Linked DNA regions of Homo sapiens: region 2 is linked to region 1. Evidence: fine-mapped expression QTL. Tissue or cell type: whole blood. Region 1 holds a variant in brackets; the other region holds the start of a gene. All regions are shown on one strand. Distances are between the middles of the regions.

The links. PIP is the estimated chance that this variant, and not a neighbour inherited with it, causes the effect.
Region 2: EPHX1 starts here. The variant in region 1 is fine-mapped to the expression of EPHX1 in whole blood (INTERVAL, PIP above 0.99).

Annotation. Positions count from the first base shown.
Region 1 is chr1:225,926,632-225,934,725 of GRCh38, reverse strand. No RefSeq gene overlaps it. Among named protein-coding and RNA genes, the nearest start is that of PYCR2, 6.4 kb to the right of the region's middle. RefSeq lists a cis regulatory region at 5,836-6,488. The variant G/A (reference allele first, on the strand shown) is at 3,958.
Region 2 is chr1:225,806,015-225,814,118 of GRCh38, reverse strand. EPHX1 (epoxide hydrolase 1) reads right to left here and starts at 3,995. Exons shown (of 9, transcript NM_001136018.4): 1 at 3,950-3,995. RefSeq lists a silencer at 3,818-4,037.

The DNA.
Region 1 (8,094 bases):
TCTCTACTAAAAAAACAGAAACTAGTCAGGCGTGGTGGCGGGTGCCTGTAGTCCCAGTTACTCAGGAGGATGAGACAGGAGAAGAATCACTTGAACCCTGGAGACGGAGGTTGCAGTGAGCTGATATCACACCACTGCACTCCAGTCTGGGTAACAGAGTGAGACTCCATCTCAAAAAATAAATAAAATAAAGCACAGCACATGTAATTATATATAGTATATAATACTTGATAAGTGACTGTTACTGTTATGTATTTACTATACTTTTTATTATTTTAGAGTACTCGTTCTACTTATTAAAAAAAAAAAGTTAACTGTAAAACAGGCTCAGGCGGTTCCTTCAGGAGGAATCCAGAAGAAGGCATTGTTATCATAAGAGATGACAGCTCCGTATATGTTATTGCCCCTGAAGACCTTCTACTGGGACAAGATGTGGAGGTGGAAGACAGTGATATTGCTGATCCTGACCCTGTGTAGGCCTAGGCTACTGTGTGTGTTTGTGTTTTATTTTTTAACAAAAAACTTAAAAATTAGAAAAAAAATAAACTTTTTAATAGAAAAAGTTTATAGAATAAGGATAAAAAGAGGCCAGGCGCGGTGGCTCATGCCTGTAATCCTAGCACTTTGGGAGGCCGAGGTGGCAAATTGGCTGAACTCAGGAGTTTGAGACCAGCCAGGGCAACATGGTGAAACCCCAACTCTACTAAAATACAAAAAAATTACCTGGGCATGGTGGCGCATGCCTATAGTCCCAGCTACTCGGGAAGCTGAGACAGGAGAATCACTTGGATCCGAGAGGCAGAAGTTGCAGTGAGCCGAGATCACACCACTGGACTCCAGCCTGGGCAACAGAGCAGGACTCTGTTCCCCTCCAAAAAAATAAAAGAATAAGGATAAAAAGAAAAATATTGTATAAATCTGTACAATATGTTTCTGTTTTAATTGTTATTACAAAAGAGTTGGCCAGGTGTGGTGGCTCATGCCTGTAATCCCAGCACTTTGGGAGGCTGAGGTGGGCGGATCACCTGAGGTCGCGAGTTCAAGACCAGCCTGACCAACATGGTGAAACCCTTTCTCTACTAAAAATATAAAATTAGCCGGGCATGGTGGTGCATGCCTGTAATCCCAGCTACTCGGGAGGCTGAGGCAGGAGAATCACTTGAACCTGGGAGGCAGAGGTTGCAGTGAGCTGAGATCGCACCATTGCACTCCAGCCTGGTGACAGAGTGAGACTCCGTTTCCAAAAAAAAAAAAGAGTCAAAAAGTTTCTTTTTAATTTAACGTTTATAAAAAAGTTACAGTAAGCTAAGGTCAATTATTAAAGAAAGAAAAATTTATTTTTACAAATTTAGTGTAGGCTAAGTATACAGTGTTGATAAAGTCTACAGTAGTGTACAGTAATGTCCTAAGCCTTCACATTCACTCATTACTCACTCACTGACTCACCCAAAGCAACCTCCACTCCTCCAAGCTCCATTCATGGCAAGTGCCCTATAGATGTTGTGCCATTTTAAAATATTTTACACTATATTTCTACTATATCTTCTCTATGTTTAGGTATGTTTAGATACACAAATACTTACCATTGTGTTACGATTGCCTACAGTATTCAGTACAGTAATATGCTGCACAGGTTTGTAGCCTAGGAGCAATAGGCTACACCACATAGTCTAGGTGTGTAGTAAACTCCACCGTGTAGGTTTATGTGAGTGCGCTCCATGATGTTTCCACAGCAATGAAATCGCCTAACAATGCATTTCTTAGAACACATCCCCATCGTTTTTTTTTTTTTTTTTTTTTGAGTTGGAGTCTTGCTCTGTCACCCAGGCTAGAGTGCAGTGGTGTGATCTCAGCTCACTGCAGACTCCGCCTCCCAGACTCAATCGATTCTCCTGCCTCAGCCTCCCAAGTAGCTGGGATTACAGGTACCCGCCACCGCGCTCAGCTAATTTTTGTATTTTTTAGTAGAGGCAGGGTTTCACCATCTTGGCCAGGCTGGTCTCCAACTCCCGACCTCATGATCCATCTACTTTGGCCTCCCAAAATGCTGGGATTACAGGCATGAACCACCGCACCAGGCCAATATCCCCATTGTTAAGTGAGGCATGGCTGTACTTCGGGATAAAGGACTCTCTATTTCTTACCTGCAAAGCTAATTAATACTAACTAAATAATAAGAGAAAAATAGGCTGGGTGTGGTGGCTCATGCCTGTAATCCCAGCACTTTGGGAGGCTGAGGCGGGTAGATCGCTCTAGGCCAAGGAGTTCTAGACCAGCCTGGCCAACATGGTGAAACCCCATCTCTACTAAAAATACAAAAATTAGCTGGGCATGGTGGTGCACACCTGTGATCCTAGCTACTCAGGAGGCTGAGGTAGAGAATCACTTGAACCTGGGAGGTGGAGGTTGCAGTGAGCCGAGATTGTGCCACTGCACTCCAGCCTGGGTGACAGAGCCAGACTCTGTCTCAAAAAAAAAATTAAAATCATAACAGAAGAAAAATAGAGCTAAAAAATGTCTAAAGAGGGCCAAGATTTTCCAGTTGGGGTATTGTAAATACCAGGGCATATGGTTGCTTTGTGTACCAGAAGGATATCAATATCCACCTGAAGAACTCTACCAGTTACACAGTGATGTATCTGTGGCTCTAAAAGATCTGTGGATTCCCAGGCAGTCACATGCAATCAGTGACAAAGATGGGCCTGCTCACACCAGGCTGAGTGTGAGCTAAAAAAAAAAAAAAAATGTAGGAGATTGGCTTCATTTCAAAATGTAAGGCGTGCTCATTAGGATAGGGAGACAGTGTGGTAGACAGAACGCTCTCCCCAAAGACACCTGGGCCCTAATCCTTGCAACCTGTGACTGTTATGTTACATAGCAAAAAGGACTCTGCAGATGTAATTAAGGTTACAAACCTTAAAATAGGGAGATTATCGTGGATTATCTGAGTGTGCCCAATCTAATCACATGAGCCCTTCAAAGCAGAGAACTTTCTCTGGCTGGAGGCAGGAGAGATGAGGTAGAAGGGAGAGGTCAAAGAGATCTGAAGCATGAGAAGGACTTGCCCTGCCATTGCTGGTCTGAAGATGAGGGAAGCCATGAGCTAGAGAATGTGAGTGGCCTCTAAAAGGTGGGCTGACTCCCAGCTGATAGCCAGCAAGGAAAGGGGACCTCAGATCTACACCCACATGGAAGTCGAATTCTGCCAACACTTGAATGAGTCTGAAGGTGGATCCTCCCCCAGAGCCTCCAGATAAGAGCCCAGATTATCAGCTGACATGGGGATTTGTCTTTATGAGACCTGGAGCAGAGAAACCAGCTGAGGCTACTCAGACTGTTTTTTTGTCTTGTTTTGTTTTGTTTTGTTTTGTTTTGTTTTAAAGACAGGGTCTCACTGCCACCCAGACTGGAGTAAAGCACGATCATAGCTCACTGCAGCCTCTATCTCCCAGGCTCAAGTGATCCTCCCACCTCCCTCTCCCCAAGTAGCTGGGACTACAGGCTCATACCACCATACTGGCTAATTTTTACAATTTTTGTAAAGACAGGGGTCTCCCTACATTGCCCAGCATGGCCTCAAACTCAGACTTTAAATCTACAAAATGTGAGATAAAGTTGTTTCATTTTAAGCAGCTAAATTTGTGATGAATTAATACAGCAGCAATAGAAAATTAATACAGACAGTAAGCCAAATCCCATTAGAAGTAGGATGTAATTACAATTTTTTTTCACTTAAAAGATGAAATAAAGGGCCAGGTGCAGTGGCTCAAGCCTGTAATGCCAGCGCTTTGGGAGGCCAAGGCAGGCAGATTGCTTGAGCCTGCGAGTTCAAAACCAAACTGTACAACATAGTGAGACCATCCCCATCATCTATACTTTAAAAAATACAAAAAATTAGCCAGGAGTAGTGGTTGTAGTTCCAGCTACTTGGCAGGCAGAAGTGGGAGGAGTGTTTGA[G/A]CCTGGGAAGTTGAGGCTGCAGTGAGCTGTGATGATGCCACTACACTTTAGCCTGGGTGACACAGCAAGAACTTGTCTCAAAAAATAAATAAATAAATAAATAAATAAATAACATTAAAGATAATTTTTAATGTATTGCAAACCACCCATAATCCCACCATCCTAAAACAAAATTATTTTGGTTTTTGCATATCACCTGTTTCCATGCAGCATGAGTAAATACTTATTTTAAAAACCAAGGTTTTGGCTGGGCACGATGGCTCACGCCTGTAATCCCAGCACTTTGGGAGGCCGAGGTGGGTGGATCACGAGGTCAGGAGATGGAGACCATCCTGGCTAACATGGTGAAACTCTGTCTCTACTAAAAAAAAAAAAAAACAAAACAACAAAAAAAATTAGCCAGGCGTGGTGGTGGGCACCTGTAGTCCCAGCTACTCGGGAGGCTGAGGCAGGAGGATGGTGTGAACCCGGGAGGCGGAGCTTGCAGTGAGCTGAGATCCCGCCACTGCACTCCAGCCTGGGGCGACAGAGCGAGACTCTGTCTCAAAAAAAAAAAAAAAAAAAAAATCAAGGTTTTGGCCAGGTATGGTGGCTCACGCTTGTAATCCCAGCACTTTGGGAGGCCAAGGTGGGTGGATCACCTGAGGTCAGGGGTTCGAGACCAGCTTGGCCAACACGGTGAAACCCCGTCTCTACTAAAAATACAAAAATTAGCTGGGTGTGGTGGTGCACACCTGTAGTCCCAGCTCCTCAGGAGGCTGGGGCAGGAGAATTACTTGAACCTGGGAGGCAGAGGTTGCAGTGTGCTGAGATTGCACCACTGTACTCCAGCCTGGGTGACAAAGCTAGACTCCGTCTCAAAAAAAAAAAAAAGTTTTTCTTATCTTTCTTTTTTTTTTAATTATACTTTAAGTTCTAGGGTACTTGTGCACAACGTACAGGTTTGTTACATATGTATACATGTGCCATGTTGGTGTGCTGCACCCATTAAGTCATCATTTACATTAGGTATATCTCCTAATGCTATCCCTCCCCCCTCCCCCTACCCCACAACAAGCCCTGGTGTGTGATGTTCCCCTTCCTGTGTCCAAGTGTTCTCATTGTTCAATTGCCACCTATGAGTGAGAACATGCGGTGTTTGGTTTTTTGTTCTTGCGATAGTTTGCTTTTTTTTCTTTCTTTTCTTTTTCTTTTTTTTTTTGAGACAGGGTCTCACCCTTTTGCTCAGGCTGGAGTGCAGTAGCAGGATCTTAGCTCACTGTAACCTCCACCTCCCAGGCTCAAGTGATCCTGCCACCTCAGCTTCCTGAGTAGTTGGGCCTACAGGCACGAACCACCACACTCGGCTAATTTTTTATTTTTATTATTTATTTATTTTTATTTTTTTATTTTTTGGTAGAGACAGGGTTTTGCCATGTTGCCCAGGATGGTCTCAAACTCCTGAGCTCAAGTGATCCTCCTGTCTCAGCCTTCCAAAGTGTTGGAATTACAGGCATGAGCCACTGCGCCCGGCCAAAATCAAGTTTTAATGTGCTTATTGCATGGGAAAAAGAAGTGAAGAGAGTTATTCTCCAAAAGGGTCACATTTGTTCTAAATCTTTGTGTGGTGGAATTGAAAACAATGTTTTTCCATTTGTTCTCTTTCTTTTTTGTTTTTTCGAGGCAGAGTGTCACTCTGTCGCCCAGGCTGAAGTGCAGTGGCACGATCTCAGCTCACTGTAACCACCGCTTCCTGGGTTCAAGCGATTCTTGTGCATCCGCCACCAGAGTAGCTGGGAGTACAAGCGCAGGCCATGATGCCCGGCTAATTTTTGTATTTTTAGTAGACAGGGTTTTGCCACGTTGGCTAGGCTGGTTTGGAACTCCTGTTTTCAAATGATCGCCTGCCTTGTTCTCCCAAAGTGCTGGGATTACAGGAATGAGCCACTGCACCCAGCCTTCCATTTGATCTCATTTCTAATTTTTCTAAAATAAACATGGATTATTTATGCAATAACAAAAAGAATGCAAAAATGCACTCAAAAATGCGCCTCTTTGGAGAGGCTCCTAGGACAGGGAGGATTGAGGGCCAAGGCACTTGCCATCTGTTTATCTGGGAGCAGCACAGGCTTCTCTCTCATTTCCTAGGTCATCTCAGTTCTTAGGAGAGACTGGCCTGCTGTTTAGAGATAGGAGAGACTGGCCTGCTGTTTAGAGGGAGGCCCTGAGGCCCTGATAGTGAAGAAGCAGAAGTAGACAGAAGTGAAGCAGTATCCATTTTGTCTGAGACAGCTGGAGAGGGCCATCAGGCAGGACAGAGGGGAGTGAAGAGGGAGGAAGGGTACAAACAGCAGAACCTGACTGGTGGATGAGAGGATGGGAGTAGAGGGGTGAAGGTGGGCAGTCCTGGCAGCTTTGTGGACGTGTCTGCTCCGAGACAGCAAAAGGATAGTGGGTGCCCAAGGAGACAAGTGCCAGCAGGGACTGAGCATGTCCCATGGCAGGATGGCAGTGCAAGGCTGGGGTGTCCTTTAGGGTGGCTGGATGGGAACGAAGGGCTTCCCCTCTCCTCTCCTCAACTTCAGTTCAGAGGAACTCCACAGGCATCAGATGTGACTGCCTTAGAAACCAAGGCAGTGGCCACAGCACCAAGGAAATGGGACGTTAGAGTCAGCAAGGTCATTAAAAGAGAATAAAATGGTCTTACCTATATTTAAAATAGGTAACAGGCTGGGTGCGGTGGCTCATGCCTGTAATCCTAACACTGGGAGGCCAAGGAGGGAGGATTGCTTGAGGTCAAGAGTTCAAGATCAACCTAGACTAACATAGTGAGACCCCGTCTCTATTTTATATATATATTTTATATATACATATATTTGGGTTTTTTTTGTTTTCTTACTTTGTTTTTATTTTTTGTTGTTTTCTTTTCTCTTTTGCTCTTTTTTATTTCCATCTTATATTTTTAAAAAATAAAATATAATAGATTTTGTATATATAAACTTTAAACTTTGGAGATGAAAAAATAATAGATCAAAACTACCACAAAAAAGAACAGTTTGTGGTCAGTGGCTCACTTGCTGCCCTAAGTCCAAACTGAGGGGAGCAAGTGCTTTTGCTACTCCGTGTCTTATGTGGCCAGTCCTGGCTGGGGATGAAGCCAACACTGGGGGTCACCAACATGGCCTCTTTTTTTTTTTTTTTTTTTTTTTTAGACAGAGTCTCACACTGTCACTCAGCCTGGAGTGCAGTGGCACAATCTTGGCTCACTGCAATCTCCACCTCCCAGGTTCAAGCAATTCCCCTGTCTCAGCCTCCTGAGTAGCTGAGATTATAGGTGCCCGCCACCACATCCGGCTAATTTTTTGTATTTTTAGTAGAGATGGGGTTTCACCATGTTGGCCAGGCTGGTCTCGAACTCCTGACCTCAGGTGGTCCATTCGCCTCAGCCTCCCAAAGTTCTGGGATTACAGGTGTGAGCCACCGCACCCGGCCATCCTTTCTTAGGCTTTTGCAGTTCTCCCATTTCACCCTGGCTCCCGGAAGCGGAAACGGGAGATATCAACGCAAGGCAACCAGGTAAGGGATGGGTGTATGTAAGGGGTCAGAAAGGAGTGAGACACAAGTGTCCCCCACACCTCACTCCAAAACACACATTCAGCTTCAGCACAACCTCCTGTATTGCAGGTCAGATCCAGAGCTCCCCACAACAGACCACAGCCAGGAAAAGCAAAGGGCCCTGCAGTGCCCTGGTGGACTATGGGGAGGGTGAGTATCCTGCAGAGGAGCAGGCAGCATTAGGAAGTTGTGAAGGAGGGTAAACCCCCAACTTCCTCACTACCTGACAAAGACTCCTCTACAACAAAAGGGAGGCCAAATGCAGGCAAACAGAAATGAGACAAAGAGAAGAGGGGAAGTGCTGGCAGCGCAGTGTTCTAGTTCCATTCCTGAGGTCCTGCTCTCTGTAGGTGCCCCTTCTGGTCTGTGAGCTCCCCTGTGCCTCTCCCAAGCGCTGTACAGAAGCCCCCCTTTTCCTTCAGCCAGTTTGGTTTCTGCTGGGTTTCTGGTTTCAGAGCTTTACGCTGGTAACCATTAGGCTATGCTGCAACATGGCAGCTATGGGAGCTCTTAAAGCCCCAAACCACTGGACCTTACAAATCT
Region 2 (8,104 bases), 120 kb after region 1:
CTTTTTCTGTTTTAAAAAGAATTAAAAATGAAGCTCAGATATGTGAAGTAGTTAATCCAGCTCTTAAGTACCAAAAAGACATTCAAATTCAGTCTCTATTCATCAAACTTCCCAAATGCTAAAGGCAGCAAAAACTCCTGCTCCCGACCTAAGAACAAGGCCTGTGATCCTAGTTTGTGGAGTAGCTGGAGAATTTTCCAGAAGTCTCTTTAACTCCTCAGAGAAAAGAACACTTTCCCCTCTTCTGCAAGCTTGCTCAGTTAGGCCTTGGAGAGCCTAATGGGTGTGGCTGTGCGGGGGCTGGACCATGCACTAAACCACACCCACCCACCAGGCAACAGACGGAAAGACACAGACAGCAGGGCGGGTGGGCATGAGGACTCCACACCAGGTCTCTGAACCCATCTCCTGGAATGCCGTAGGTCAGGCTGTGGCAGTCAAATGGCTGCTTTCTGCTGAGAAAGGATGAACTATGACTTCCCCTGGGAAAGTAAATAAACCTTGACAATAGGGGAGGCTGCTCAGTGTGAGCTTGGTTTGCACAATCGTGTGCTCAGTTATATAACGGAGGATTGGATTGCGCAGTTTTCTCCTTGTTGAGAGGAAGCTCTTCCTGGAGCGCCCACCAGCTCCTCCCTCCTCAGGAGAGGGGTGTGGCTGGATCCTTGGCAACGCTTTGGTCCCCTAACGGGGGAACTGCTGGGGTGCCTTCTCCCTCCTGCAATCCCCACCTTATCCCACAGCCCCTTGGAGACTCTGCTCCTAAGCCACTAGGTCTGGGTCAAGAACCACACACAGGCAGCCCAGGGGGCCAGCTGGGCTGGGCAGTGACCCTCCTGCCTTGACTCAGGGCTCTTGAACTCTTAAGATTTTGCCTCCCCTACCCTGTGGCCAGGGCCTTCACTCTAGTTGAAGTGTCTTCACTGGACCCAGCAGAGGCTACAGGGCCCACTGAGTCCCTTCAAAACTTACTGTTTCCCTCCTACACATTCCTTTCCTGAAATCCCTTCAGACTTTGCCACAGAATCATCACATAGCAGAGCTGCAAGAAGGCCTGCAGATCGCTGAGCCTAACCTCATTTTACAGATGAGGTCCAGAGAGGGGACACATTAATGGCAGAGCTGGGACATGAGCCAAGTCTTTTTTCCAGCCCAATCCTCTTCCCACATCACTGTATTACCTCTCAAAGGAATGAATTGCTGTTGATGGGATTTATGGCCCTAGCAGAGGTGGGTTTTCAGTATGAGATCCTAGGCACCCCTCGAATCACTATCTGTCTATCCCATCTGTGCCCACTCTGTCCCCGAGTGGGTGGGCTTCGAGCTACTTCTTCAGCAGGGGTGACCAGCTCATGCTTGGTCCTCCCTTATTTGGTACACCCAGCTGTGATCCATGTGGTTGAACCTCTTGGCGTAAGAACTGAGAAATGAATCTCGGTAGCCCCTGCTTTCACATGTCTGGGCCTGGGCCAAGATACCAGAACGGGAATCAAGGTGCCAGGTGAGCAATCACCAAGCCTGGGTATCAGGTCGACAGGAGGGGCACTGTGCATTGGTGAACCTGGGCTCCCTGAAAATGCCAGTTATGCTTAAGACATCAGGCAGGAACCAGGACACCCCAGGAGAGTCACTCCACCTCCTGCAGTGGTCAAGATGCCCTTTCTGCAAAGGTCCCTCTGCCCACAGAGCCCTCATTCAGGGCTTCCTGAAGATGTTCCCAGCCGCGTAAGTCCATGCCAGCTAGTGTGCTTCAGGCACAGCTGAGAGGCAGGAGGCATCACGCAGAGAGCATGTGGCTTGTCACAGATGGTGCTGAGGTTCACCCTGGCTGTCTTGCTGAGTAGTTATTTTCTGTGGAAGGTCCTTCCTTTCCTGGAATTGGGAAGAAGGCCGCAGAAAGCTCAGGAGTCCCCTCACTTACAGACTGAGCTAGTTCAGTTTATCCAGTAGGTCACTCATCAGCTTGACCCACACTCTGCAAACACAAACATCAGGCCATTCAAGCTGGGCACACTCCTGCCCCCAGCCTTTGCACCTGCACCCCAGGCAGCAGCTTGGCTGCTCCCTAACTCTTCAGGTCTATGCCAGTGCCACCCTTCAGTGAGGCCTTCCCTTTCCACCTGGCACTCCTCTCCCCTCTTTAAAGTTTTATTTATCTCCATATTACACATCATCTTCTAACATACTTTATAGTTTACAAATGTATTTTGTTTATTATCCCTCTGCCCCTAGAACTGCAAATCCCACGAGGGCATGCTCCCCGCTGTGCCTCAGTTCCACAGTGAGCAGTTCCTAAGTACCGCCCATGCCTCCTCAGCGCCTCCTAGGTGTGGAAATTTGGGAAAGAAAAACTGCTTGGAGAGCACTCGCAGAGTTTTTGCTGCTAAGTCAGACCAAGTGGGGCCAGTGAAAGGCCCCCTATTATCCCCCAAACCTAGCTCCCTGAAGGAGGCAACCGTTACACCAGAAAACAATGTTACTTTCTGGAGAAGTGTGGCTTCCTGAAAATGTTTATTTTAAATTATGCTGGATGCAGAGGAGGCTGCACAGTGGTACCGAAACAGCCACCAACCCCAAGGTCCTCAACAATTTTCCACCAACAGCTCATCAATCCCAGCAAAGGGCTGTCCTGGAAGCGGGCCTGCCAAGTGCATGGGTCCCCCTCACCTCCCACCTCCAGCCACAAGCTGAGCCCTCACAGAACTTCCAGGACAACGAGTGTTGCCTGTAGGGGCGGATCCAGGCTTTGCGGAACCTGAAGTTTAAACAATGGGAGGTGGGCTATGGAGGGGGCATTCAACTTTAAGAAAAAAAAGTCAAAATTAGGATTACAACATTGCTAGGCACCCCACCTCCAAGATCTCGGGAGCCGCCAGGGCAAGGAAGGAGCCAGAAGCTCAGAGAAAACCGACATCTGCCAGGGAGGGAGGCAGGCGGCCACTCGGTCTCCGCGGCGCTTTTGCTCAGGTTGACCACATTCCCTGGCTTCAACTACAAGGTGAACTCCCGGGCAAGTTTCCTGTTCTACAAGAGGAGAGGGCTGGCCTTCAATCCCGAGACCAGAGCGAGGGGGTGCCGGGCGGCGGCTGCGGCAGCAGATGGAGATGAAAGCGCATTTCAACTAAAAGGTGTGATCAGTGTCAGGCCTCTGAGCCGAAGCTAAGCCATCATATCCCCTGTGGCCTGCACCTACACATCCAGATGGCCGGTTCCTGCCTTAACTGATGTCATTCCACCACAAAAGTGAAAATGACCTGTTCCTGCCTTAACTGATGACATTGTCTTGTGAAATTCCTTCTCCTGGCTCATCCTGGCTCAAAAGCTCCCCTACTGAGCACCTTGTGACCCCCCCCACTCTGCCCGCCAGAGAACCCCCCTTTGACTGTAATTTTCCTTTACCTACCCAAATCCTATAAAACGGCCCCACCCCTATCTCCCTTGGCTGACTCTTTTCGGACTCAGCCCGCCTGCACCCAGGTGAAATAAACAGCCATGTTGCTCACACAAAGCCTGTTTGGTGGTCTCTTCACACGGACGCGCATGAAAATCAGTGTTCCGACTTGGGTGACAAATTAAGTGCATTTCACCGCCGAGCGAGCCACGGCCCTGGAAGCAGAGCTCGCCCAGGCCAGGGGACGCGGTGCGCTCTCGGGGTCGCGAGCCTCCCTCCCTGCGGCGTCCGCCCACAGTCTGGGACGCGGAATTCCCTGCGAGAAGTCCGCGGTCGCCTGCAGGCTCCTTCCCCCAGTAGGCGGCACGCGCAGTCTCCTGGCCGGGGCAGGAGCTGGGGGCGGACCAACTACAAGTCCCTCTGCACCCCTGCGGGCCGACCGCAGCCCCGACCCCTCGGCGCCCCGGCCCGCCGCCCACCCCGGCGGCCGAGCCCGCGCGGAGCCCGAACCGCGTCTGCGTCCGGGGAGTGCGGGCCCGGCCGGCCCCGGGCGCTTACGGTCTCGGCTCGCAGGCTCCGGCGGCGGCAGGCGCGCGATCTCTCCGGCTCCCTGGCTCTCCTCGGCTAGTTTTCAGCAGCCCCGGCGCAGTCTCCGCCCAAGCCCGGCCTCCGAGCGGGGCGTTCCCCGGCCTGGAGGACCCGGGAAAGTCTCTAGGCCTGCCTAAGGCTCCACCTCTGCCAGGGATAAAACGGGCTACTTAAAGGGCGGTCCGCGGCCCCGCGGCCAGAAATGGAGAGAAGCGTTTGGCAGCTCCTACAGCAGTTTGATCCCGTAACTTCGTCAGTTGAATCTAAAAACAAAAATCCAAACTTGCATGATGTATGTCCTTTTTTTTTTTGGAGACAGAGTCTCACTCTATCACCCAGGCTGGAGTGCAGTGGTGCGATCTCGGCTCACTGCAGCCTCAAGCGATCCTCCCACTTCGGCCTCCAGAATAGCTGGGACTACAGACTGCGCCACCACACCTGGCTAATTTTTTAAGTTTTGTAGATACGGGGGTCTCACTTTGTTGCCTAGGCTGATCTTGAACTCCTGGGCTCAAGCGATGCACCTACCTCCGCCTCCCAAAGTGGTGAGATTATGGGCGTGAGCCACTGCACCTGGCGGTGTATGTCTTTTTAATTTCATCTTTCTAGCAATTCATTCTTAGTATATTTAACAAACATATTGGTCCGTGACATGCTTGGAAATCTAAAAACAAATTAGTGTCTTTATACAGAGAATGTGAGAAGCAATGGTCTGAAGCACTCTTGGGGGTCTTCATGGTGAGGACCAGTATAGGATGCTGAGTTCAATGCCAGGGGAGCAACCTCTTAGTGAATCCCCTCCCGCTTTGGAGAGAGCTCAGGGCCCAGGCGGGTGGTTGCTGGGGCTCTTTTAGCTTCCGTGAGAGCGTTGATCCCCAGCCCCTCATCGTTAGAAAGCCTGTCCCATCGCCTCTGCCATCACCCCTCCTTAGCTTCTCTCTTCACCTGCTCAGAGGTGCAGTTCTTTCAACCACCAGCATCCTCACGATCTCGGTGGACAGACTACAGCTAGGAGGCCACATGCAGGGCCCGTGGCTGGAGTTCTAAGCTTCTGACTGTCACCTTGCACACTTCAGGATAAGGTTCACCACCACCCACCTTCCCTTGGCCTCCAACCTTTCTGCTCACCCTGGCCCAAGAATTCTGGCCGGCAGACGCACTCACCTCACTCCCACCTCCAAACTTTTGCTCTTGCAGTACTGCCGGACAGGGTGCCCTCCTCCATCCACATGTAGAGTCCTCTTGTCCTTTAATTCTACACCCTCCTATAAAAGCTTTCTCTTGCAACTGCAGTCTCTGACATCTCTGTATTCCTTTCAGAACCTGCAGTCTGGGAGAGTTCTTTCCCCTCCCCTCCAAATAGTTCACACAGAAGCTCTGCCTCTGGCCACTTCACCAGGGGACCCAAATTCGTTACTCTTAAAACTGCAGTGATGGTGAAACAGGTAGGAGTCAGGACTTAACGCCAGAGGTGGGGCTTGGACACCAGATTGAGGACCAAATTGAGGACTAGCTAAAACAGGGACTGGGTGGAAGATGAGCATAAGATATGCCCATCATATCAGTGTGCCATGTCAGTTTACCAGGGCACGCCCCTGGAGTTATCACCCCCCTTCCATGGCAATGACCCGAGGACCCAAAAGTTACTACCCTTTTCCTAGAAATGTCTGCATAAACTGCCCCTTAATCTGCATGTAACTAAAAGTGGGTATCAACATGACTGCAGAATCGCCCAGAGCTGCTGCTCTCAGCACACTGCCTGTGGGGCAGCCCTGCACTGCAGGAGCAGGCCCCCTCTGCTGCTGCTGGACACCGCCACCTCCATAAAAGTTGCTGTCTCACACCACGGGCTCTCTCTTGAATTCTTTCCTGGACAAAGCTAAAAACCCTGCTGGGCTGAGACCCAATCTGGGGTCTCAGCTGCCCTGCATCAAAACTCTTCTAAAATTAGATATTGGTGATGGTTACATCACTACAAGTCTGTAAATATACCAAAACCCGTGAAATTTTACACTCTTAAAGGGTGAGTTTTATGGGTATGTGAATTATGTCTCAATACAGTTGTTATTTTATTTATTTATTTGTTTGTTTTTGAGATACAGTCTCACTCTGTTGCCCAGGTTGGAGCGCAATGGCACAATCTCGGCTCACTGCAACCTCCGCCTCCCAGGTTCAAGTGATCCTCGTGCCTCAGCCTCCCAAGCCGCTGGAATTACAGGCACTTGCCACCACACCCAGCTAATTTTTGTATTTTTAGTAGAGATGGGGTTTCACCATGTTGGCCAGGTGGGTCTCAAACTCCTGACCTCAAGTGATTTGCCTGCCCTGGCCTCCCAAAGTACTGGGATTACAGGCGTGAGCCACCAGGTGTGGCCAAAGCTGTTGTTTTTCAAAAACTGCATTAAAATGGCAACCTCTTGTATCCTAATACCCTCCTACTTGGTTAATCATCCATCCAGCGTTGGGCTGCGAAATCTAAAATAGTGCAAGATATTTCTAAGTACAGTCTACATATGGGCAGTGTAGAAACAAATGCATCAGAGTCCAACTCAGCAGGGCAAAATTTAGACAGATTTTCACTGCTTTTGGCTAAAAGCCATTGAAAGGTTTACGGGGCAAAAGAATGGGTACAGTGTGCTCTTTAGAATAAATTATATTGTGTAAAAAATCAGAGCAAGGCTGTTGTTCTGCATAAACATCTGGAGAGTTTCCAGGTACATCAGGTAGAATGAAATAATGTGTGGGAGGCAATCTTGGATAAAAATTGTAGATCAATTCCTGATTCAACAAAAAGGAAACAACATTGTTTCTGCCAAAAATGCACAATATGGATAGAATCATGAGGAAACATTGCACAAACCCGACATTAACATTCTACAGGCTGGGTGCGGTGGCTCAGGCCTGTAATCCCAGCACTTTGGGAGGCCGAGGCAGGTGGATCACCTGAGGTCAGGAGTTTGAGACCAGCCTGAACAACATGGAGAAACCCCGTCTCTACTAAAAATACAAAATTAACCCAGCATGGTGGTGCATGCCTGTAATCCCAGCTACTTGGGGGGCTGAGACAGGAGAATCACTTGAACCCAGGAAGCAGAGGTTGTGGTGAGCAGAGATCACACCATTGCACACTCCAGCCTGGGCAGCAAGAGCGAAACTCCATCTCGAAAAAAAAAAAAAAAATCTACAAAATAGCTGGCTTGCACTTTTCAAAAATGTCAGTGTGAAAAAAGGGCAATGTAATGAAAGATATGGAAAGACTGAGAAGCTCTTCCTGATTAAGGGGGACAAAAGAGCTGCGAAACCTCATTGCAGTGCTCTCTGTTCTAGATTGGATCCTGGCCCAGAAAAAAAATTTATATAAAGAATATTGTTGGGACAATTGGGGAAATTTGAAGGAGTTCTGTAGATTCAATAATAGATTATATTAATGTTAAATATCTTGAGTTTGAAAACTGAATTGTTTCTTAAGTGAACGTCACTGATCTTAAAAAAATGTACACTGAAGTATTCAGTTGGTGCAAAGGTATTTGCGGTTTTGCCATTACTTTCAATGGCAAAAACCACAATTACTTTTGCACCAACCTAATATTTAAGGAATCATGTTTGAAATTTAAAATGTTTCAGTGTGTACACATATATAGGAACTATATGTGTGTGTGTGTATATATGTGTGTATGTATATATATGTGTGTGTGTATATGTGTGTGTGTATATGTGTGTGTATATATGTGTGTGTATATATATACACACACACACAGAGATATTGAATTAGAAAGCAAATGCAGCAAAGTGTTAACAATTAGTGTCTGGGTAAGACATGTATGGGAGTTTTGCAACTTTACTGTAAGTTTACTGCCATTAATTACCATTATCTACAGCTAATGACATTCAGAGGCCCCATAACAAAACAGCTGACTCCCTATTTGATCACCTGCCATTGAGGCCAATCAGTTTACTACCCACCACACACAGAACTTTCAATTGATGTTTTAGTGTCTCATTTCTAAATACTGAAGGATCACCAAACACTTGGGCAAAGCCTGTGACATGAAAGGCAAAGCCCAAAATAGAGAAAAATTGCTCACAGGCAACAGAGACAAGGCAAAAAGCAGAAAAATCTTCAAA